Homo sapiens: one gene and its partners. The protein of the gene in region 7 purifies or fractionates together with the protein of the main gene of each other region. This does not show direct contact. Each region holds a gene or a part of one and is shown on either strand. Other genes may lie near its edges. The genes, in order: NASP, EIF5B, AHCY, NAP1L4, ARF3, PLS3 and MAPK13.

Region 1 (2,176 bases), on a different chromosome or scaffold from region 7:
CCAGTCCTGCCTTAACCTGCAGGAACAGTACCTGGAAGCCCACGACCGTCTCCTTGCAGAGACCCACTACCAGCTGGGCTTGGCTTATGGGTACAACTCTCAGTATGATGAGGCAGTGGCACAGTTCAGCAAATCTATTGAAGTCATTGAGAACAGAATGGGTGAGTGAAGACGAGCTGCTTCATGGTGATGTTGGATCCAGCAATTAACAAGGAAGAAAACAGTTCTTTTTTGAGCCATTACTAATCACTTTATTCTTTTTAGCTGTACTAAACGAGCAGGTGAAGGAGGCTGAAGGATCGTCTGCTGAATACAAGAAAGAAATTGAGGAACTAAAGGAACTGCTACCCGAAATTAGAGAGAAGATAGAAGATGCAAAGGAGTCTCAGCGTAGTGGGAATGTAGCTGAACTGGCTCTGAAAGCTACTCTGGTTGGTTCCGTTAACATTTTGATAATAGCATGTTTGGTACCATTTATGTTAATGTTCTATTTGCCAGGAACTTTTCATCATGACTTGGTTTCCAGGGAGTTGGTGGGCTCATCTAATTATTCCTATCAAGTAATGCAGTGGTTAAGAGGAAATACCCTGGAGCCCCAGACTATCTGGGTTTTAATTCCATACTTACGTGTGGCCATGGGCCTTTCTCTCCCTCAGTTGACCGATTTGTAAAATGGGGATAATACAGGTTGAGTATCCTTACCTGAATGCTTGAGACCAGAAGTGTTTTGCATTTCAAATGCTTTTGGATTTTGGAATATTTGCATCATACTCAACAGTTGGATACCCTTAATCTAAAATCTGAAATGCTCCAGAGAGCATTTCCTTTGAGTGTCAGTCAGTCCTCAAAAAGTTTCAGATTGTTGGATTAAGGGATGGGATGCCCGACCTGTAGTACATATGTGTAAAATATACTTCTGACAGTACTGGAAAAATAGACATTTCTTAAAAAATGTAAGTTGCTATTTCCATCTCCAAGAACTCATTTGCATAAATTAATGAGGCATTGAGAGGCATTCACCACAAATTGCCTGGTTCTGTTTTTGGCACAGACCTTTTTACCCTGCAGGTAGGATATAGAAGATTTAGTTTATTATGTACACTCTATGTATAGACTATGCTCTGGGTGGCTGCTAGACAGGCATAGGTGGGCCAGGGGTAGAACTGGATACTATATGGAGGCCACTAGCATTTCAGGTCTTAGTCAGTTGTTTGGATGGTGATGGGTTCCTGTTACAAGGCTGTGGGCGGCCTGGGTTCTATCTTCAAACTAATTTGGATTTGTCATTTCTCGCAGGTGGAGAGTTCTACTTCAGGTTTCACTCCTGGTGGAGGAGGCTCTTCAGTCTCCATGGTGCGTATTCAGGTGGTTTTTTGGTCACTTACATTAAGTCTCAGTGTTGGCTCATGCCTGTAATCCCAGCATTTTGGGAGGCCAAGGCAGGAAGATTGCCTGAGGCTTGGAATTCAACACTAGCTTGGGCAACATAGTGAGACCTTGTCTCTGAAAAACTAAAAAATTATAAAAGCCTCAGCATTGATCTCATATAGCTTGTACAATTGCTAATAAGGGCTTATTTTGCCAGATTGCCAGTAGAAAGCCAACAGACGGTGCTTCCTCATCAAATTGTGTGACTGATATTTCCCACCTTGTCAGAAAGAAGGTAAGTCTACATGTGGTGTTTCTTTTCTACCGTTTCCTCAGACTCCATTTTTAATCCCTTTCCTATAAACCCCTCCCTATAGTTGGTGCATATAAGACACTTATTTTCCAAAGGTGGTAAGGATTTGTGAGTGGAGACTGTTGTGTTTTGTTTTGTTTTGAGACGGAGTCTTGCTCTGTCACCCAGGCTGGAGTGCAGTGGCGCAGTCTCGGCTCACTGAAACCTCTGCCCCCCGGGTTCAAGTGATTCTCCTGCCTCAGCTTCCCAAGTAGCTGGGATTACAGGCGCCCGCCACCACGCCTGGCTAGTTTTTGTATTTTTAGTAGAGACTGGGTTTTGCCATACTGACCAGGCTGGTCTTGAACTGCTGACCTCGTGATCCACCCACCTCGGCATCCCAAAGTGCTGGGATTATAAGCGTGAGCCACTGCCCTCAGCCAGGGAACTCTGAACTCCTGTTCTGTTTCCTGACTCAAACACAGGAATTCAAACTTGTACAGTGATTACCATTCA
Region 2 (3,500 bases), on a different chromosome or scaffold from region 7:
GGTCTTCGTTAGGCACATATGTAGGCTACTGGGGGATCACATAGGCATCAGACCGTATTATCACCCTCCTTTTCTCCACCACGTTCCCAAACCATTGATCCAAAAGGCCACTACATAACTACCCTGCTTATTGAGCACACGCTTAAAATGCTTTAAAAGTTTCCAGCAGTCTTGTTAAGTAGAATTCTTCTCACTTCAGGTTTCATGATCTAAAGTGAGCATATACCAGTCTAAATCCTAATATTTACTAGTAAGCTCCACTTAAAAATGTATCCCAAACTACGCCATCACTCCTATCATCACTGTGGTCTGAATCACCTAGACCTCTTGCTTGGACTGTGGGAGCCTCCTGACAGGCTCTTGCCACTGACTTCCTAACAACCCAAGGTCCACATAACAACCCAATTAACCAGTCTGATTGTGAACACACAGCCTTGGCAATGGCTTCTTGCAAAACTCAGAGAAGCTCAATCCCTCCCATGGCCTGTAAGATCCTTGACGATACAGGTCCTGCCACCCTCTCTGACCTCATTTATCACTGTCCCTTCTGGTCACTCTGCCTCGCACTGCTGTTCTCTCTGGACACTCCCCATGTGCCTGTGTGGCTTACTCTGTCTGAAGAGGTGAGATGCCTTCCCAAACCACATCATTAATCACAGTCCCTCCTCTCCTTATCTAGGCCCTTCCCTGCTTTATTTGGTTTTTCAGCACTTCTCAACATGTGTCAATTGTCCTGCAATAAGAGCATGTCCCAGACCAGGCACAGTGGCTTACACCTATAATCCCAGCACTTTGGGAGGCAGAGGCAGGTGGATCACTTGAGCTCAGGAGTTCAAGACCAGCCTGGCCAACATGGCGAAACCCTATCTCTACCAAAAATACAAAAAATTAGCCAGGCATAGTGGTGTGAGCCTGTAGTCTCAACTACTCGGGAGGCCAAGGTGGGAGGATCACTTGAGCCCAGTAGGCAGAGGTTGGGGTGACCCATGATCATGCCACTGTACTGCAGCATGGGTGACAGAACGAGACCCTGTCTCAAAGGGAAAGGAGGAGGGAGGCTGGCCTGGTTCTCTGCTGATGCCTCCTCTACCACTGCAGCAATGTAGGTACTGTGAGTGCTTGAGTGAAAGTTTGGTAGAGGAATGGACTTCTCTCCCACAGAATCTCTTATTTCCCGGTTTTCCTCACTCAAGTTTTGTTACTTCCAATCTATATAATCCCAGATGAGCAACATAAAGTCCCTACATTTAATAACTACGAACCCATTAACAAGACCCAAGTCTGCCAAGATTATTAAACTGAAGTCACAGACAAGACTTGTTTGCATACTGCTGGAATGTCCCCAGTATGTTGGGTTTCTGGTTTGTAACACACCATTTCAGGATGCAGCCTCTGGTAGATGAGTAAATGCCATGATTTTGCTGTTTACAGCCCTTTCTGGAATTCAGTAATTCTCAATCATGTTCATTAACAAAGACTCAAAGTAAATAAAAACAGTAACTTACTTAAATTCTTCTTGTTTCTGTTTCTTGTAGTCTTGTCTATATTTTGTAAAGGCATCAAATAAATGATAAATAATTTCTGCACTAAAAATTCTAACTCCTAAACTATCAGCCATTTCTTGTGCATCTCGTTCAATTCTCACATCGAAGGCCAAAATTACTGCATACCTAAAAGGTTAAAACACATCAAAGACCATTCAGTGAAAAACAGAGTATGTCACAGAGGACAGTTTTTTAAGATAGGACAGTTTTAAGATAGCTACGTAACATGAAAGCCTTCATAGCAAGAGAAATTACTTACTGAGGGTCATGTTCCAACATCACTGAAGCCTTCATAACATCTTTTTTATGCACTGGGCCAATGTTAATTCCTGCATACTGAAAAAATGGGAGTTTCCATGTTTATCTGTATGTATCAGGTAATGGCGATGGCACCAAAAACCACGACCAACCACCATTCACTTGTGGAGCGAGTTGTAGTTACTTACGGGCACTTCTGATGTTTTCAGAAATTCCAGTAGAGCTTCCAAAGAACCCAGTGTAGATGCCTGGACATAGACTCCTTTTTCTTCTAATTTGATAGCATTTAGTGTCTGCTTTAACTCATGGATCAATTCATCCTTGAAAAGAAATCAGATTTGATAAGGTTGTCAACACACCTCTATCCTCAGCAGTCTAGAATTAAATTGTGTTTCTCTCTTTGGTTAAGTACTCATCTGCAAATATGAAACTAAGGCTTAGATAGAGCAAGGCATCACAGAACCTGTGCTGGAATGAAGGAGGAGATTTCGGGGCCATACCCTAACTGTATTTCGCTTCACCTTTGTCTTAGGTTTACTAACTTTGAAATATGTTTAATCTCCGCTCCACTTGGCAAATACAGTAGATGGGTGGGCAGAATTAAACAGTAGAGAAGAAAAATTTTTTTAAAGTTAAAAAAGTACCACATAAACGTAATGTGTTATGATAGCCCAAAAGTTCAGCTTGTCTGTGTTAACTAGGAAATACCATAATCTCATGATCTCAGCAGCTCCTTCCTCCATCACTGCTTGTCGGGAAATGGAAGAAGAGATTTTTAACCAGAAATAAGTAAAACAAGTTTATCAATGCCACTGAAGGGACGTAAGTCCACTCCATACTCAGGACTGGGTGAAGAGACAGGCCTGCCCTATTCTCTCACTGGCCCTAAGATAGCTTATTCCCAACAGCATGACTTGATGCTGCCTAAATAATAAACACGGCCCCAGGACACAAGAGCCATGTGCTGGGAACAGTTGTATTTTCTCTTTGGCAAATGAACAAACTATGGCTCAAAGTCCACTTTTATGAAACTACAATGGACATGGGCCAAAAAGAATATACAATTTCTAGCTTTTTTTTTTTTAGACAGGGTCCTGCTGTCACCCAGGTTGGAGTGCAGTGGCACGATCTTGGCTCACTGCAGCCTCTGCCTCCCAGGTTCAAGTGATTCTCCTGCCTCAGCCTCCCAAGTAGCTGGGACTACAGGTGTGCATTCACCATGCCCAGCCGACTTCTAGCTTTTGACTCATTTTTTTATTTGAATAAAATGCATTATTTTTATAATTCTAGTACATATAAAAATTATACCAATTTCTATGATTGTACAAACTGAAGTAATTCAAAAGCATCAAGTTTGCTAAGAGGCCAAGAAATGGCAGGCTTCACAAAGACAAAGCCAGTTTTGGTCACCATCCCTAGCATGTGCAATGCTGACACATGCCAGAACTCAAATAGCTTTTAAGGAAAAAAATTTTTAAATGAACTTACTTTAAGAACAGGGATTTCATCTTCTTTATAAGCCACAAGGAGGGGTAAACCAGCCAATGTTTTCTCCAGGTCTTTTCCAAGAATCTTTACCCCCTGAGCTGCTTCTACTTCTTTATGCTTTTCATACTGGTTCTACAGAGATAAAAACATTTGTTACCAAATGTACTTTAAAAGTGGTTAGCAGTAGAAGATGATATAAGAGAATCTCAT
Region 3 (3,500 bases), on a different chromosome or scaffold from region 7:
GTTTTGTTTACTTTAGTAGAATGATGGAGGTGATGTAACTTAAATTTTTAAGAGCCTCCCTCTTCTGGCTGCTGTGGGGAGAATGGCATGTTAGAGCATGGGACCAGTGAAGAGAGTGTGGCAGTGTCCAACTGAGAAGTGGCAGTGTATTTATTTCTTTATTGTTTTTTTTGGAGACAGAGTCTCCCTCTCACCCAGGTTGGAGTGCAGTGGTGCTATTTTAGCTCACTGCCACCTCCGCCTCCCAGGTTCAAGCAATTCTCCTGCCTCAGCCTCCTGAGTAGGTGGGATTATAAGTGCCCACCACCACGCCCAACTAATTTTTGTATTTTTAGTAGAGATGGGATTTCACCATGTTGGCCAGGCTGCTCTCGAACTTCTGACCTCGGGTGATCCGCCCACCTTGGCCTCCCAAAGTGCTGGGATTACAGGCTGTGAGCCACCGCGCCCAGCCTGAGAAGTGACAGTTTAGATGAAGGTGGTGAGATGCAGTTGGATTGCTTATATATTTCACTTGTTGAGCCAAAAACGTGCTGATTGAGGTGAAAGAGGAAAAGAGGAATCAAATCTTAAGTTTTTGGGCAGAGTAGCTGGTTGAATGGTGGTTTCATTTCCTAAAATGGGAAGATTGGGAGAGTAACCGGTAGTGGGGGCAAAGGAGCCATGAGGACTCCAACATGACACATAATAGATCCAACTGGACATCCAAGTGGAGGTGCTGTGGAGGCAGTTGGATCACATCGAGTCTCAAGTTCAGGGGAGTAGTTTGGGCTGGATATAAATACGTGGGAGTCATCCCCGTAGAGAAGGTATGTAAAGCCATAAGACTGGATGAGCTTAATTGGTAAACATAAGAGAACTGGGAGATGATGGAGCCCTGAGGGCCCCCAAACCCTAAAGTCTGTTAGCTAAAGAGGAACCAGGAAGGTAGGTGGAAAAGCACAGGACAGTCACAGAAGCCAAGTAAAGAAAGGGTTTCAGGAAGGAGGGCAAGTCATTCATGCAATCTGTGCTGCTGGTAGAAACATGGTCTTAGGTAATTTTGCATCAGGTATGGAGATCAGGCTGGTCTTTGGACGGAAGAGCAGTTTTAGTGGAGTATGGAAGTCCTTAAGGAGGAGAGGGGATATGGAATCAGGCCCCATGGAGCAGGGATAGTGTAGTGACCAGCCCCATAGGGTCGGTGGGTCTCTCCCTGTGTGCGGCGACGAGAGAGTGTAGAAATAAAGATACAAGACAAAGAGACAAGAGAAAAGGCAGCTGGGCCCGGGGGACCACTACCATCAATGCGCGGAGACCGGTAGTGGCCCCGAATGTTGGGCTGCGCTGTTATTTATTGCATATAAGGCAGAAGGGGCAGGGTAAAGAATGTGAGTCACCTCCAAGGATAGGTAAGGTCATGTGGGTCACGTGTCCACTGGACAGGGGGCCCTTCCCTGCCTGGCAGCCGAGGCAGGGAGGGAGAGGAGACAGAGAGAAAGACAGCTTACGCAATTATTTCTGCATATCAGGGACTATTAGTATTTTTACTAATTTACTACTGCTATCTAGAAGGCATAGCCAGGTGTACAGGATGGAACATGAAGGCAGACTAGGAGTGTGACCACTGAAGCACAGCATCACAGGGAGATGGTTAGGCCTCTGGATAACTGTGGGCGAGCCTGGCTGATGTCAGGCCCTCTACAAGAGGTGGAGGAGCAGAGTCTTTTCTAAACTCCCCTGGGGAAAGGGAGACACCCCCCCCCCTCCCGCCGCCGCCACTTCCCAGTCTGCTAAGTAGCGGGTGTTGTTCCTTGACACCTTTTGCTACCGCTGGACCACGATCCGCCTGGTAACGGGCGTCTTCCCAGACGCTGGCGTCACCGCTAGACCAAGGAGCCCTCTGGTGGCCCTGTCCGGGCATAACAGAAGGCTCGCACTCTTGTCTTCTGGTCACACCTCACTATGTCCCCTCAGCTCCTATCTCTGTATGGCCTGGTTTTTCCTAGGCTATGATTATAGAGCAAGGATTATCATAATATTGGAATAAAAAGTAATTGCTACAAACTAATGATTAATGATATTCATATATAATCATATATAAGATCTATATCTAGTATAACTATTCTTGTTTTATATTTTATTATACTGGAACAGCTCGTGTCCTCTGTCTCTTGCCTCGGTGCCTGGGTGGCTTGCCGCCCACAGGACAGCTCATCTATTTTATTTTATTTTTTTGAGACCGAGTCTCACTCTGTCACCCAGGCTGGAGTGCAGTGGCATGATCTCAGCTCATTGCAGCCTCTGCCTCCCAGGTTCAAGTGATTCTCCTGCCTCAGCCTCCTGAGTAGCTGGGATTACAGGCACCCACCACCACACCCGGCTAATTTTTGTATTTTTAGTAGAGACGGGGTTTCACCATGTTGGTCAGGCTGGTCTTGAACTCCTGACCTCAAGTGATCTGCCCACCTTGGCCTCCCAAAGTGTTGGGATTACAGGTGTGAGCCACCGCGCCCATTCAACTCATCTGTGGTAACAGGAAAGAGTGCCTGGTCTGAAGCTGTAGATGACTGCTATAGGTGACTAGTGGATTCCATAGGGGAAAAGTGGCCTGGTTCTGAATTCATCTCAGTGAATTGGGAAGTGAGATTGTCATTCAATGGGGAAAGGTGTTGGAGGGTTGAGGAGAGTAGAAAATGGGAGTAAATTTACTAGGAAAATGTCATAGGATTGCTGCAATGTGCTATGTGTCTTTTATGGTCTTAATAAATATGATATCTTGGCCAGGTGTGGTGGCTCACACCTGTAATCCCAGCACTTTGGGAGGCTGAAGCAGGTGGATCACGAGGCCAGGAGTTCAAGATCAGCCTGGCCAACATGGTGAAACCCCGTCTCCTCTAAAAATACAAAAATTAGCTGGGCATGGTGGCGAGTTCCTGTAATCCCAGCTATTGGGGAGGCTGAGGCAGGAGAATTGCTTGAACCGGGACCTGAGAGGTGGAGGTTGCAGTGGGCCGAGATCGCGCCACTGCACCCCAGCCTGGTCTACAGAGCCAGACTATGTCTCTAAAATAATTAATTAATTAATTAATTAAATATGATGTCTTGGTGGGGTTGTGATTGTCCTCCTGCTGGGTTCAGTGGGTCCGGTGCAGTGGAGGGTCGGGTTTAATTGGGCTGAGAGTTTTGCCAAGTGAGTTCTCAAAGGGAAAGGGGGTAGAAGGGACACTAGAAATTGGTAGGATGAATTGAATAGAGGTTCTCACCTGACAGGCCACAGCCTTGTTGGAGCTTGGCCTCTGGAAGGAGAAAACCAGAAAGATGAGGCGTGGCTAGAGTTGGGTGCTTGAAGTCCAGATTTCCAAGGAGAGCTATCACTGGTGATGGCCTACTAGGGTAGGAGGGCTGGGGTGGGTGGCTTGAGTTGAGGCACAGCCGGAGTGGTCTCTCATGCGGGAGGCGTGTTTCATCTCTGAAATTGTTAAAATGCACTGTAGGAAGCTGACTGACAGACAATTTTA
Region 4 (3,500 bases), on a different chromosome or scaffold from region 7:
TCTGAACTGGCAAGCAAATTTTCACCCAGTTAATTGGGTCGAGGAAAAATAAAATAAAATAATTCCCATGATTACACAAATGTTCTTTTATTTATATTAGTCACTGTAACAATCCTATTTATGGATTAATTTCTTTGTACCCCAAACAACTGTTTTCTTATGAAATTTTTAAAGATTTTTGTAACAAAATATAACCTTAAATTCCTAATTTTGAACTGAAAACATCTACTCCATAGCTAGAGTAACTATAAAATTGGGCCATGGCCAGGCACGGTGGCTCACGCCTGTAATCCCAGCACTTTGGGAGACCAAGGCGGGCGGATCACATGAGGTCGGGAGTTCGAGGTCAGCCTGGCCAACGTGGTGAAATTCCATCTCCATTAAAAATACAAAAATCAGCTGGGCATGGTGGCACACGCCTGAGGTCCCAGCTACTCAGGAGGCTGAGGCAGGAGAACTGCTTGAACCTGGGGGGCGGAGGTTGTAGTGAGCCAAGATTGCCCCACTAGACTCCAGTCTGGGCGACAGAGCCAGACCCTGTCTCAAAAAAAAAAAAAAGAAAAAGAAAGGAAAAAAAAATTGGGCCACGTTTGAGAGACAAAGCTAGAGAGTGTAGTCGTACTCCCCAAAACTTTTATATATTTACTCTGTCTTAATAAACTCAAAGGTCCTCAATGTCTTTATGGGAGATAACTGAAGGATTAAAATTAATTCAAATGTAATTAATGTTTTCACAAGACTCCTTATAATTTCCTTACAAATCCTATATATCCTACAAAATTAGGGATGGTAGTAAATTTTTTTTTTTTTTTTTGAGATAGAGTTTCGCACTTGTTGCCCAGGCTGGCGTGCAGTGGCGCGATCTCGGCTCACTGCAACCTCCACCTCCCAGTTTCTCCTGCCTCAGCCTCCCAAGTAGCTGGAGTTACAGGTGCCCACCACCATGCCCAGCTAATTTTTTTTTTTTTTTGTATTTTTAGTAGAGACAGGGTTTCACCATGTTGGCCAGACTTGGTCTCGAACTCCCAACCTCAGGTGATCCACCTGCCTCAACCTCCCAAAGTGCTGGGATTACAGGTATGAGCCACCGCACTCTAAGATAAATTTCTAAAGCACAATTGCTTGGCCCACATTCAGTCTGAGGAATGGCAATCCAACATTCTCAATCCAAGAGAGTCTGACCAGCCATTGGGCACAAGTTCAAATCCTCCAGGAGTACTGGATGTTTTAGATTAGGACATCAGAAAGGACAAAGAAATGATCTGTTCTCAGAAGGAATCAAGATACCCCTGTAGGACACCCCAACATCCCCACCCACAAAAGCTGGTGATTATACGAAGCCCTGAGACAGTCCAGATTTCATTTCTATTGCCCAGGCCAGTAGACTCCTGATCCAGTCTATCATTACCACTCTCCAGGATCAGAAGTTAATCATGTTGTTAAACTTTCCATGATAATGTTCTGGGTTTTTTGTTGTTGTTGTTGTTTTTTGAGGTGGAGTCTCGCTCTGTCACCCAAGGCGGGAGAGGGTCTCAAACTCCTGACCCTCAGGTGATCTGCCCACCTCAGCTTCCCCCAAAGTGCTGTGATTACAGGCGTGAGCCACCATGCCAGGCCCATGATAATGTTTAAAAGCAATGAATAGGCTGGGCACGGTGGCTCACGCCTGTAATCCCAGCACTTTGAGAGGCCCAGGTGGGCAGACCACCTGAGGTCAGGAGTTCGAGACCAGCCTGACCAATATGGTGAAACCCGTCTCTACTAAAAAGATACAAAAATTACCCAGGCGTGGTGGTGAGCACCTGTAATCCCAGCTACTTGGGAGGCTGAGACAGGAGAATTGCTTGAACCTGGGAGGCAGAGGCTGCAGTGAGCCGAGATCGCGCCACTGCACTCCAGCCTGGGCATCAGAGCGAGACTCCACCTCAAAAAAAAAAAAAAAAAAAAAGCAATGAATAATACATGTTTGCCCACTAAAGAACAAGTTCCACGAGGGCAGGGACCCTGTCTACTTGCTCAATACAGAAGTCCCAAGGCCCAGCAACAGACTCGGGATGAGACTGGTTGCCAAGAAATCTTTGCTTAACTCACTGCTACCAAATGACAACTTGTCTCTGTGTTACCAGTACCCAGCACGCATGGTGCCCGGGACTGCATGCACACATCTCAAGCAGTTTCTGAAGACACAGAGGAGAAACACTGCCTTAGTCATTCATGTTTGGTTACAAGATCTACTGAAATACCTGCCTCCAAACAGCAGCAGACTGTCTCTTCAGAGACTTCTGCGGTGCCAAGCCCTGGGGTTTCAAGAAGAAAGCAAAAAATGATTTCCTTTCCTTAACCAAAACACTACATTTTACTTGGGGCGCAGCAGTCTTTACTGCTGCACTCCCATCTCCTCCACCCTTCTTTTCTGGGCAGTTCATTAGCATACGACTCAATGAGGCTAACTTCTTAATCCAGTACATATTAAAAGATCTTGTCATCTTGTCAATAAGGCACTTCCCTCTCTACCTATTTCATATTGCAACCACCAAAGTCCCTACTCCTCTGCACTGTTTTTCAAAAGCACCTGCCACCATTGAACTTGTTCGTCTGTCTCCCATAGCAGAAACAAGGACAAAGACTTCTGTTTTATTCTGCGGGAGGCCCCAGTACCTAGAACTGTGCCCAGTACATAGAAGATGCTCATGAATAAGTAAACAGATGCAAATCACTGAAAGCTACTTTTCGGTAACTGAGTAAACAAGTACTATTTTAATTATTATACTTAAAACCTTTGCACATAAAAGTGCACAGTCATTCTTTCTACCACAAATTAAACAGAAATTATCTCATCTTGTTTTTGAACAGGCTTTTCCAGATAATGCACAGCGCATTTTTAAAAGTCCCAAGGACATGAAATGAACATACATTTCGTTTTTAACAGTTAACAGGGGATACTTGTAAGAAACTTAAGGTTACACAGGAAGTGGTCAAAATCAAAAAGTAAAGATCACAAAGTGATCTTTCGTTGTTTTCATACTATAAAAACACAATGCCTCTGTTACTAAATGCAAAATGTAAAGCTCTGGCAAACAAAGTAAAGCAACCCTGTTCTCTCTTAAGAGGGCAGGGTGGAAAACCAATGACTGCCAGATGAAAACTAATTTATATCACCACAAACTATTTCTTAAAAATTTCATTAGCAGCCAAATACAAAATTATTTACTATCTACCTACTGATAAGGGTTTTCCATTACTATATGCTCAAAGACAAACCTTACAACTATAGTTTCGGGAGGCATAAATTTGCTTACCTCAGGAGGTCCCACAAAAATTCAGCTGAGGCCAGGTAACAGCAGTTTCCTGCAGAGATCAGCTACTTCCTATCACCATAGTGGTCGAAGAATCAAACGAAGTAATATCAGATTTCTACTCTGGAAGCCTAAAACACTTTTCCCTTTAAGCAAAAAAGCAAGCATTCCTTAGCTAGCAATCTCAGGCCAAACTCCCAACAA
Region 5 (3,500 bases), on a different chromosome or scaffold from region 7:
AGTAGAGACAGGATTTCACCATGTTAACCAGGATGGTCTTGATCTCCTGACCTTGTGATCTGCCCACCTCTGCCCCCCAAAGTGCTGGGATTACAGGCGTGGGCCACCGTGCCTGGCCTCATTCATCAAACATTTATTGGGCATACTGAACTAGGGATACAGAGAGGGAGACAGTTTCTGCCTTCATGAAACTCAGTCTTTAATGGAAAAGACTAGTGAAGACAGGACTACAAAACAGTGTGAGAGTAAGAGTAAAGCACATAGTATTATGTGAACAGAAAGCTGGAGCAGTAAATCAACACTGAAGGGTAAAGGGTGATTCTGAAACCTAATTCTCAGGTCATACCTGAGCTGGCTCCTAAAGGAAGACGAGGAAGTAATCAGACAATAAAGAGGGAGTTGGGCAGGGGAAGTGTGTGCAAAGGCATAAAGACTGAGCCAGGCACAGCAGGACACACCTGTAATCCCAGCACTTTGGGAGGCTGATGCAAGAAGATTGCCTGAGGCCAGGAGTTCAAGGCCAGCCTGGGCAACATGGCAAAAGCCCATCGCTACAAAAAAAAAAAAAAAAGCTGGGTGTGGTGGTGCACGCCTGTAGTCCCAACTACTCAGGAGGCTGAGACAAGAGAATCACCTGAGCCCAGGAAGTTGTGGCTGCAGTGAGCCATGATCACGCCACTGCACTCCAGCCCAGGTGACAGAGTGAGAGAATATGTCTCAAAAAAAAGAAAAAGAAAAAAAGACCTAAGTTTCAGATAGCACTTTAAAAAAATTTATATAATCTTTTTTTTTTTTTTAAAGAGATGAGGTCTCACTCTGTCACCCAGGCTCACTGCAGCATCCAAATCCTGGGCTCAAACAATCCTACTGCCTCAGCTTCCCCAGTAGCTAAAAAGACCTACGGGCCCAAATCATCGTGACGCAGCTAACTTTTTTATTTTTATTTTTGGTAGAGATAGAGTCTCACTTTGTTGACCAGGTTGGTCTCGAACTTCTGACTTCAAACGATCCTCCAGTCTCAGCCTCCTAAAGTGAAGAGTACAGGCAAGGTGTGGTAGCTCACGCCTGTAATCCCAGCACTTTGGGAGGCCGAGGTGGGCGGATCACAAGGTCAGAAGATCAAGATCAGCCTGGCCAACATGGTAAAACCCCGTCTCTACTAAAAATAGAAAAATTAGCCGGGTGTGATGGTGTGGGCCTGCAATCCCAGCTACTCAGGGTGCTGAGGCAGGAGAATTGCTTGAACCCAGGAAGCAGGGGTTGCAGTGAGCCAAGATCACATCACTGCACTCCAGCTTAGGTGACAGAGTGAGACTCGGTCTCAAAAAAAAAAGAAAGAAAGAAAATGATGAGGGATGGGGCTGGAGAGATAAGCAGGGACTGGATCATGAAGGGCTTTAAAGGCCATGCTGAGTAACGTGATCAGGTATGTGCTTTAGAAGTTTCAGGAGTAAATTAGAAAGGGGAAAGACTGGAGGCACAGACACTGCTTAGGAGGTATAGTAATACAGGTGAGAAATCGCAAGTTGTCAACTACAAGTGGAGATAGAGAGAAGAGGACAGATTTGAAACATCAAAATGGTAGAATCCACAGGATTTAATGAGTGCTTAAATGTACGCAGAAGAGTAGAATAATCAAAGATGATTCCCAGGTTTCTGGCCTAGGGCTGGGTGGCATTTCTTCAGAAAGAAAATACAAGAGGAACAGATCTGAAGGTGAATATGTATGTTTGTTTGTTTGTTGTTGTTGTTGTCTGAGACAGAGTCTCGCTCTGTCGCCCGGGTTGCAGTGCAGTGGCGCGATCTCGGCTCACTGCAAGCTCTGCCTCCCGGGTTCACACCATTCTCCTGCCTCAGCCTCCCGAGTAGCTGGGACTACAGGCGCCCGCCACTACACCCAGCTAATTTTTTGTATTTTTAGTAGAGACGGGGTTTCACCATGTTGGCCAGAATGGTCTCGATCTCTTGACCTCATGATCCACCCACCTCGGCCTCCCAAAGTGCTGGGATTACAGGCATGAGCCACTGCACCTGGCCTGAACATGTTTGTTTTTATTATTACTGTTGTTTTTAGAAACAGAGTCTCACTCTACCACTCAGACTAGAGTGCAGTGGCATGATCATGGCTCACTGCAGCCTCCATCTCCTGGGCTCAAGAGATCCTCCCACCTCAACCTCCCAAGTAGCTAGAACTACAGGTGTGCATCACCATGCCTGGCTAATTTTTAAAGTTTTTTTGTAGAGACAAGGTCTTGCTATGTTACCCAGGCTGGTCTCGAACTCCTGACCTCAAGCAGTCCTCCCACCTCAGCCTCCCAAAGTACTGAGATGACAGGCATGAGCCATTGTGCCTGGCCCCTCAATCTTAGAAAAGGACCTATGGCAATGTTCTCTTGTCCAGCCTTTGGATGTTGATGATGTAGAAGGATGAGAAGCTAGAATAATCTGGAGACCATAAAGAGAGGGAGACAGACATTAAAAACTCCAGGATGTCAGAGCAGAAAAATGGGAAAAACTCAGTTGGGTCCTTAATTACAGTATCAAGCTGGTAAACTAAACTTTTTCTTTTTTAGAGATGGGGTCCCACTATGTTGCCCACGATGAAATACAATGGCTATTCACAGGTGCCCTCATGGTGCGCTACAGCCTCAAATTCTTGGGCTCACGCAATCCTGAGTAACTGGGACTATAGGCATGCACCACCACGCCTGGCATCTTTCGTTTTCTGAGATGGGTCTTGCTCTGTCACCCAAGCTGGAGTGCAGTGGCGTGATAGTGGCTCACTGCAGCCTCCACCTCCCAGGCTCGAGCAATCCTCCCACTTCAGCCTCTGGAGTAGCTGGGACTACAGGCATGCACCACCACGCCTGGCTAATTTTTGTTTAACTGAAGTTTCGCCATGTTGCCCAGGCTAGTCTCAAACTCCTGGGCTCAAGTGATCCGCCCACCTCGGCTTCCCAAAGTTCTGGGATTACAGGCATGAGCCACTGTACCCGACTGGCTTCTTTTTTTTTAAATCATAGTAAAATATACACAAAATTTACCATTCTAACCATTTTTTTAAGTATACAATTCAGTAGCGTTAAGTACATTCACACTGTAGTGTAACTATCACAACTATTCATCACCTCAACTTTTTAATCTTCCCAAACTGAAACTGTACCTGTTAAACAGAGGATCCCCAATCCCCCTGTCCCTCCAGCCCCTGGCAACCACCATTCTCCTGTCTCTATGAATCTGTTACTCTAGGTACTTCATAGAAGTAAAATTGTACAATATGTGTTCTTCTGTGTCTGCCTTTTTGTTTTTTTTTTGAGACGGAGTTTTTGCTCTTGTTGCCCAGGCTAGAGTGCAATGGCGCAATCTCGGCTCACTGCAACCTCCATCTCCTGGGTTCAACCGATTCTCCTGCCTCAGCCTCTCAAGTAGCTGGGCGATTACAGGCACCTGCCACCACGCCCGGCTAATTTTTTGTATTTAGTAGAGACAGGGTCTCACCA
Region 6 (3,500 bases), on a different chromosome or scaffold from region 7:
AATAGGCTAGATATGTGGATTTTGTTAATTAGTAGCATGCATTCCATATCTAATGGGTACAAAAACCACAGATTCCTAGAAACTTGGGACTAAATAGTTCACTCTAACTCCTTACTTTATGGATGAACAAAGTGAAATCCAATTTTGAGAAGGAACTTGTCCAATGTCACTAAACAAATTAGTGACATAACCAGGGAACATGGTCTCTGAGAGTAATTCCCTAAATTAGATTTCATAGATTGGGAGTTTGTAAAACATAATCACATTACTCTCAACACAGGAATATGAATATATAGTCACTAAATCTATTACTGTGGTTATAATCCAAATACTTGGAAAAGGTTTTCATATAGTCACTAAATCTATTACTGTGGTTGTAATCCAAATACTTGGAAAAGGTTAGCTTCTAGTTACTTATTTCCCCATACTTGTTTTGAATATTTTATGCCATCCATATAAATCAATACCACAACAACGATGGAATTCACTAACAATCAAAATAAATCAAAGCTAGTTTTCTGGCCTCTGAATTACATGTACAGTAATACATTTTAAAATAATGCTTAAAATTGCCAACTCTACTTCATACGATTATAAAAATTATTGTACTTATAAGAAATTGACAATAATTTTGCAAGATTGTAGAATTCAAAAGAGCACTTATACTTACATTGAAACCTGACATGTTAATATCTATCCGTGGTTCACCTTCCTTTTGTCCTTTTGGTGCGATTTGATTGAGAAGATGGAAATAGGCTTTGGAATCCTACAAAGAATTGAAAATGTCAGTGAGATCACAGTTACAAGGAATGAATGTATCCTATTGTCCCATGTTTGGAAGGCTATTTGCATTGGATTTTTTGAGAATAAATGGCACAAATCTCTGCCTTTTAATTTAACAGGTGTTTTCCCCAGAAAAGTCCATCTATCTGCCTTATATCTGTCTTGCATATGGATGAACTGGATTTTGACATGACTTCGCAATTATTAAAGTCATCAATACAATAATGCTAATAAACATATAACCAGTTCTGTACCTTCACTGAATTACTGAAGTCAATAAGCTTGACAGACAAAACAAGCATTTAAAAAAGTAGGAGAGCAGAAATCCAGGAAGCATAGAAGAAAGAGAAAATAAACAGGTTATATCATTACAAAGCACAATGCATATACCACAACCTACGAAGAAGAGATTAGCTATGTTAAAGATGTATTTAATTGTAAATTTAAATGACAAAAGCATTAAATGGTAAACATTTTAGTTGCTAAAATAACACTGAACCCTCTATGATCTGAATGTACTTAACAAAACAAAGGTCTCTTTTCGTTTTAAACCCCTGGACTAAATCACTTGAATGTTGTTTTCTTAGAATCCCAATACATAAAACAATGGGGTTGGCTCACAGTCAACATGAATTCAGGTTGTGTGGACAACTCCACAAAACACAGCTTGAAAACTATTGTACTTGCACAAACGCTTATTAAGAACCTTTACACACGTGTCAAGTAAATTCCTGCATCTTTGGAATGCTAGAGGACCGGAATTTGAGTCAAGATTCCTTAATCCTGCCATATGTGAAGACCACCTTCCAGCTACGATATTAATAGTTTCCTGTTACTGGGCTTTGAAGGTCCAGACAGGCTATGAAGGAGTGTTTCTCATAGTCTATGTGCATACTAACCCCTGAGGAAGTTACTCAATATGTGAATTACTGAATCCAATTCCTGAGCTACCAAATATAAATGTCTGGGAGCTGCCCAGAAAGGTGCCTTTTAAACCAGTTACCCAGGTGAGTTTGAAACTTGGTGCCATAAATGATTCTAAGAATGGGGAAAATCAGGTAATTGAAAGCTATTTCAGAGCAATTCATAAAATGCCAACTCCGATTCTATCATTTGGGGGCATAGCATTTACCTCTTAAGGAATAGTGTACTACAATTGCGAAAGTGCTTTCACTTCCAATTACTTGCTAAAGCTACACAAACAATTTATAATAAACCTATGCTCTTGAGAAGAACAAGTAAAGAGCAGACCCAGCAAAATCTGTATTTACTACCCTGAAAAGGGCTTTACAGGTGAAAATTTGAACTTGAATACAGATAAACTGGAAGTTAGTTTTCACATTACCAAACAATTATTTCCTTTTTAAAAATATTGATGGCCGGGGGCGGTGACTCATGCCTGTAATCCCAGCACTTTGGGAGGCCGAGGTAGGCAGATCACGAGGTCAGGAGATCGAGACCATCCTGGCTAACACGGTGAAACCCCATGTCTACTAAAAATACAAAAAAAATTAGCCAGGCATGGTGGCGGGTGCCTGTAGTCCTAGCTACTCAGGAGGCTGAGGCAGGAGAATGGCGTGAACCTGGGAGGTGGAGCTTGCAGTGAGCCGAGATGGCGCCACTGCACTCCAGCCTGGGCGACAGAGCAAGACTCCATCTCAAAAAAAAAAATAAACAAAAAATAATTTAAAAAATAAAAAATAAAAAAATTCAAAGCAGGCTTCATTTACAAAAATAAGATTTTCTCTTTACATTTAAAATATATCCCACTACATAAAATCCATTTATGGTTGGCTTGCTGATTTTCAGGAACGCATCTAGTGCATGAAGCAAAATATACCTGGCTGGCCAGGTACCATGGCTCATGCCTGTAATCCCAGCATTTTAGGAGGCCGAGGTGGGAGGATCACTTGAGCCCAGGAGCTTGAGTCCAGCCTGGGCAACACAGTGAGACCCCATCTCTACAAATAATAAAAAAATCAGGCCGGGCACAGTGGCTCATGCCTGTAATCCCAGCACTTTGGGAAGCCGAGGTGGGCAGATCATGAGGTCAGGAGTTTGAGACCAGTCTGACCAAGATGGTGAAACCCTGTCTCTCCTAAAAATACAAAAATTAACCAGGCGTGGTGGTGGATGCCTGTAATTCCAGCTACTCAGGAGGCTGAGGCAGAAGAATCTCTTGAACCTGGGAGGCGGAGGTTGCAGTGAGCCGAGATAGTGCCACTGCACTCCAGCCTGAGTGACAGAGGGAGACTCCATCTCAGAAAAAGAAAAAAAAATCAATCGGGCTTGGTGGTGTGCACCTGTAGTCCCAGCTACTTGGGAGGCTGAAGTGGGAAGATTGCTTGAGCTTGGGAGGTAAAGGCTGCAGTGAGCCATGTTAGCAGCACTGCACTCCAGCCTGGGTGACGAAGTGAGACCCTGTCACAACAACAACAGCAACAACAACAAACCTGGCCAAACATATTGTGTAATTAAAAGAGAGGGCAGGGTCAGTTGGTCTTATAATTTTGGGGCTACTCTTAATTTTCATGGATGAAATCAGTAGTACAGGCAACTCACTGCTTCCTCTCATCACTGAACAAAATCATATCATCACATAGTATTGTTTTCACAGCCTTGCTGGTCAGTGACATCTGATGAAGATCCTTAAGTTTATTCCCTGTGTACCAACATCTGGATGTCACACAGAATTGAGGCAGTTAAGGAGAACTCCA
Region 7 (3,500 bases):
ATAAAGTGTCTGTTGAAGGAAGGAATCCCTAGATGGAGTTTGGCTTTTCCAGCAAAGGATACAATCTTTCCCCTTGAACAGAGTTTTCCCTGTCAGCATCTCTGCCATGATACAGCCCACAGACCAGATGTCCACTGCAGAGGGAGGGAGAGTGTCACCTGGACTGTCTGGGGCCCAGCAGTCAGTCAGCACCGAGTGACCAGATGGCCCCAGGACCGCCCTCTCAGGCATTGACCACTGACCTGTCTGGTTGTAGTGCATCCAGCTGAGGATCACCTCGGGGGCTCGGTACCAGCGGGTCACCACGTAGCCAGTCATCTCGGCGTCTGCATGTCGCGCCAGCCCAAAATCCAGAATCTATGGCACAGGGGATAAATAGAAAAGGAACTTGCTGAGGGGAGGAGGCTCTGGGAGCGGCTTCCAGGGGCTTCCCTGGGGGAGGGCCTATCCCGCCTCTGGGCTGAGCCTGCAGCCCACTCACCTTCAGTTCACAGTCCTCATTCACAGCCAGGTTGCCTGGCTTCAGGTCCTGGGGGGAGGACAGAGAATGCATGCTAGGCTGAGGCAGAGATGGAGCTTGTCCTAGCTCCACCACCACCCAGGGGTGTGACCTCAGCCAGGCCCCTTCCCCTTCTGGGCCTCAGTTTCTTCATGTGTAAAATGAGGGTTGGACTAGGTGTTCTCTCAGGGCCCACCCAGCTCTAAAATGTTCCTGATTCTTGAAGCCTGAAACACTCAGCTCAGGGCTCACTTTGTCTGCAGCAATTCCCCATGAAGTCCCCTGGGACACAGTGACTCTTTTGAGCAGGCCTTCCTGGGCCGTGGCTGGGTGTGAAAACTCCACATTCTGTGCTCCTGGGCAGTGTCCCCTCCCTCCAACTTTCCCACTCCTTGATTGCCAGAGAACCCCATACCCAGGGATGGGACAGGGGCCTCTGAGGACCATGGCAGAGAAAGCACTCACCCTGTGCACGACCCCAGCAGAGTGGATGTACTATGTGGGAGAGAGAGAAGGGTGAGTCCATGGCCCAGCTTCCACACCAGGCACTTCAGGCTGGCCGACCTGTAACAGTGCGCTCCCTCCAGCCTCCCCAAACCTCAGGTCTAGACAGCAAGGCGTCCCCTCTGCCAGCCTCCAAGTCCCCACCCACCTTAAGGCCTTTGAGCATCTGATACACCAGGTACTGGATCTTCTCCTCACTGAACTCCATCCCCATGATCTTCTGCAGATCCGTCTGCATGAAGGGCATCACCAGGTAGCTGGAAGGCATGAGGGGTTCTTGGAACAGTGCCGGGTCCCACCCAGCCCCAGGTCAGAGCTCAGAGGAGGGACCTCAGGGCAGAACAGGGGTCATAGAGACACCCTCCAGTGTGCAAAAACTCAACTCCACCTCAGCCAGCCAGATCACCACACGGGCCTCTGGGCTCCTGGCTCCCAGTCTCCCTGTGGCGGGCCGCCCAGCTGGCAGAGCTCGGAGTAAGCGCTGCAGTTGGAGCGCGCTCAGGAAAGCCACATGGAACTGTGTTCCCGCTCTTCAAAGGTACTCTCTCCTTGCCCTCCTCCACACCCCAGGGAAAGCCACAGCTAGGAGTTAGAAACATCTGCCAGTATTTCCTTCGGCTTCTGTCCAAATATTTGATCCCTCAGAGGGTCATGCCCAGCTGAGATGGCTCCACAAACAAACAATATGTCTACCTTTCCAAGAAGGAAACAATACAACAGTTTCCAGGAGGGTGGAAGAGGGAGATGGGGAGGCTCCTGCAGCCTCTTAGGGGATTGCACAACAGGATAAGGCCAGCAAAATGTAACTGTTACAGTAAAAGCAAAGACCAGGACAAAGACAAAAAATAATAAAAATTATAAAATAGGCCAGGGGCATACCTCCAATCCCAGTGCTTTGGGAGATGGAGGCTGGACGATCGCTTGAGGCGAAGAGTTTAAGACCAGCCTGAGCAACATAGGGACCCATCTTTCTTTCTTCCTTTCTTTTTTTCTTTGAGATGGAGTCTTGCTCTGTCGCCCAGGCTAGAGTGCAGTGGCGTGATCTTGGCTCACTGCAACCTCCACCTCCCAGGTTCAAGCGATTTTCCTGCCTCAGCTTCCCTGAGTAGCTACAACTACAGGTGCACGCCAGAACGCCCAGCTAATTTTTGTATTCTTAGTAGAGACGGGGTTTTGCCATGTTGGCCAGGCTGGTCTCGAACTCCTGACCTCAGGTGATCTGCCTGCCTCGGCTTCCCAAAGTGCTGGGATTACAGGCGTGAGCCACCATGCCCGGCCTGGACCCCACCTTTCAGAAAAAAAAAAAAAAATTAGCCAGGTGTGGTGGCATGCACCTTTAGTCTTAGCTACTCAAGAGGCTGAGGTGGGAGGATCACTTGAGGCCGGGAATTCGAGATCAGGATGAGTAACATAGTGAGACCCCATATCTATAAAAATTAAAACAAAACAAAAAGCTGGACATGGTGGCATGCATCTGTAGTCCCACCTACTTGGGGGGCTGAGGCGGGAGGATGGCTTGAGCCTAGGAGTTGGAGGCTGCAGTGAACTGTGTTTGTGCCACTGCACTCCAGTCTGGGCAACCCAGCCCTATCTCTAGAATATAATAAATTTAAAACTTTTTTAAAATGAATGTTACCTTAAACAATTATGTAATAGGTTGTGTTTTTTGTTGTTGTTGTTGTTGTTGTTTTTGAAAGGACATGCTGGAGGCATCTCCAGGAGACTCTGGATTTTGGCAGCCCTCTCCTGCCGGACCACACACCTCCCTTGGGGGCCTCTCCATGCCCAGTCCCCTCCTGTGTCTTTCCCCTCCACTCGGGCACTGGTTCTTTCATCTTGGCAACATGCTTCCTGAAGCCTCTCTGTGCTAGAACCACATTCCCTTGACTTTGCTTCTTCAACTGACCACCCCTTCTCCCTCTCTCACCACCAAACTTCTAGAAAGGGCGGTCCACACTCCTGGATCCCACTGCCTTACCTCCCAGTCCTGAGTTAACCTGGTTTCTGCTTCCCTCCTACTGCCAGACTGCTCAGCTCAAGGTCACCAGTGAACACCCGACAAACACACCATGACTCCCTTTTCTTCTGATCTAACCTTTCACCAAGTCTGAAACTCCCTCTCAATTCTTTGCTGACTCTCCTCTGCCTCCTATCAGGCCCTCTCAGCTTCTTCCATCTGCTCATCCTCTTGGATCTTCTCTTTCATGTTGATATCTGAATCAATACTATCTTACCACATTCTACAATTATCTGTTCCCGGGTGTCAGCTATAACCCATCGGTGATTATTCCAGCACAAATCCACATCCCTAGCCCAGACCTTCGTCTCCTGAGGTTCATATTTATTTGCAACTGTGATTAAACATTGGAATGTTCACAGTTTCTTTAAAAGTAAAGTGTCCAAAATGGAGTTCGTTATCTTTCCCCCAAGATCTGTTCTTCCTCTACCGTGTATTTCAAGCAGGAACCTGCCCATTCCTCCACCTCTGCCACCTCAC

Evidence for each region.
Region 1: the proteins of MAPK13 (region 7) and NASP purify together in Homo sapiens (co-immunoprecipitation; one large-scale study listed by IntAct). This does not show direct contact.
Region 2: the proteins of MAPK13 (region 7) and EIF5B purify together in Homo sapiens (co-immunoprecipitation; one large-scale study listed by IntAct). This does not show direct contact.
Region 3: the proteins of MAPK13 (region 7) and AHCY purify together in Homo sapiens (co-immunoprecipitation; one large-scale study listed by IntAct). This does not show direct contact.
Region 4: the proteins of MAPK13 (region 7) and NAP1L4 purify together in Homo sapiens (co-immunoprecipitation; one large-scale study listed by IntAct). This does not show direct contact.
Region 5: the proteins of MAPK13 (region 7) and ARF3 purify together in Homo sapiens (co-immunoprecipitation; one large-scale study listed by IntAct). This does not show direct contact.
Region 6: the proteins of MAPK13 (region 7) and PLS3 purify together in Homo sapiens (co-immunoprecipitation; one large-scale study listed by IntAct). This does not show direct contact.

Annotation. Positions count from the first base shown.
Region 1 is NC_000001.11:45,615,041-45,617,216, forward strand, and holds part of NASP (nuclear autoantigenic sperm protein), read left to right. Parts: coding exon 1-161; intron 162-264; coding exon 265-431; intron 432-1,296; coding exon 1,297-1,353; intron 1,354-1,585; coding exon 1,586-1,663; intron 1,664-2,176. UniProt on the Homo sapiens protein: Component of the histone chaperone network. Binds and stabilizes histone H3-H4 not bound to chromatin to maintain a soluble reservoir and modulate degradation by chaperone-mediated autophagy.
Region 2 is NC_000002.12:99,392,889-99,396,388, reverse strand, and holds part of EIF5B (eukaryotic translation initiation factor 5B), read right to left. Parts: intron 3,423-3,500; coding exon 3,291-3,422; intron 2,123-3,290; coding exon 1,991-2,122; intron 1,881-1,990; coding exon 1,804-1,880; intron 1,671-1,803; coding exon 1,506-1,670; intron 1-1,505. UniProt on the Homo sapiens protein: Plays a role in translation initiation.
Region 3 is NC_000020.11:34,296,856-34,300,355, reverse strand, and holds part of AHCY (adenosylhomocysteinase), read left to right. Parts: intron 1-3,500. UniProt on the Homo sapiens protein: Catalyzes the hydrolysis of S-adenosyl-L-homocysteine to form adenosine and homocysteine. Binds copper ions.
Region 4 is NC_000011.10:2,985,830-2,989,329, forward strand, and holds part of NAP1L4 (nucleosome assembly protein 1-like 4), read right to left. Parts: intron 3,443-3,500; exon of another isoform or gene 3,300-3,442; intron 2,298-3,299; exon of another isoform or gene 2,248-2,297; intron 1-2,247. UniProt on the Homo sapiens protein: Acts as a histone chaperone in nucleosome assembly.
Region 5 is NC_000012.12:48,947,488-48,950,987, forward strand, and holds part of ARF3 (ADP-ribosylation factor 3), read right to left. Parts: intron 1-3,500.
Region 6 is NC_000023.11:115,637,674-115,641,173, reverse strand, and holds part of PLS3 (plastin-3), read right to left. Parts: intron 1,065-3,500; coding exon of another isoform or gene 1,038-1,064; intron 767-1,037; coding exon 671-766; intron 1-670. UniProt on the Homo sapiens protein: Actin-bundling protein.
Region 7 is NC_000006.12:36,133,513-36,137,012, reverse strand, and holds part of MAPK13 (mitogen-activated protein kinase 13), read right to left. Parts: intron 1,261-3,500; coding exon 1,152-1,260; intron 995-1,151; coding exon 965-994; intron 530-964; coding exon 482-529; intron 358-481; coding exon 243-357; intron 135-242; coding exon 63-134; intron 1-62. UniProt on the Homo sapiens protein: Serine/threonine kinase which acts as an essential component of the MAP kinase signal transduction pathway.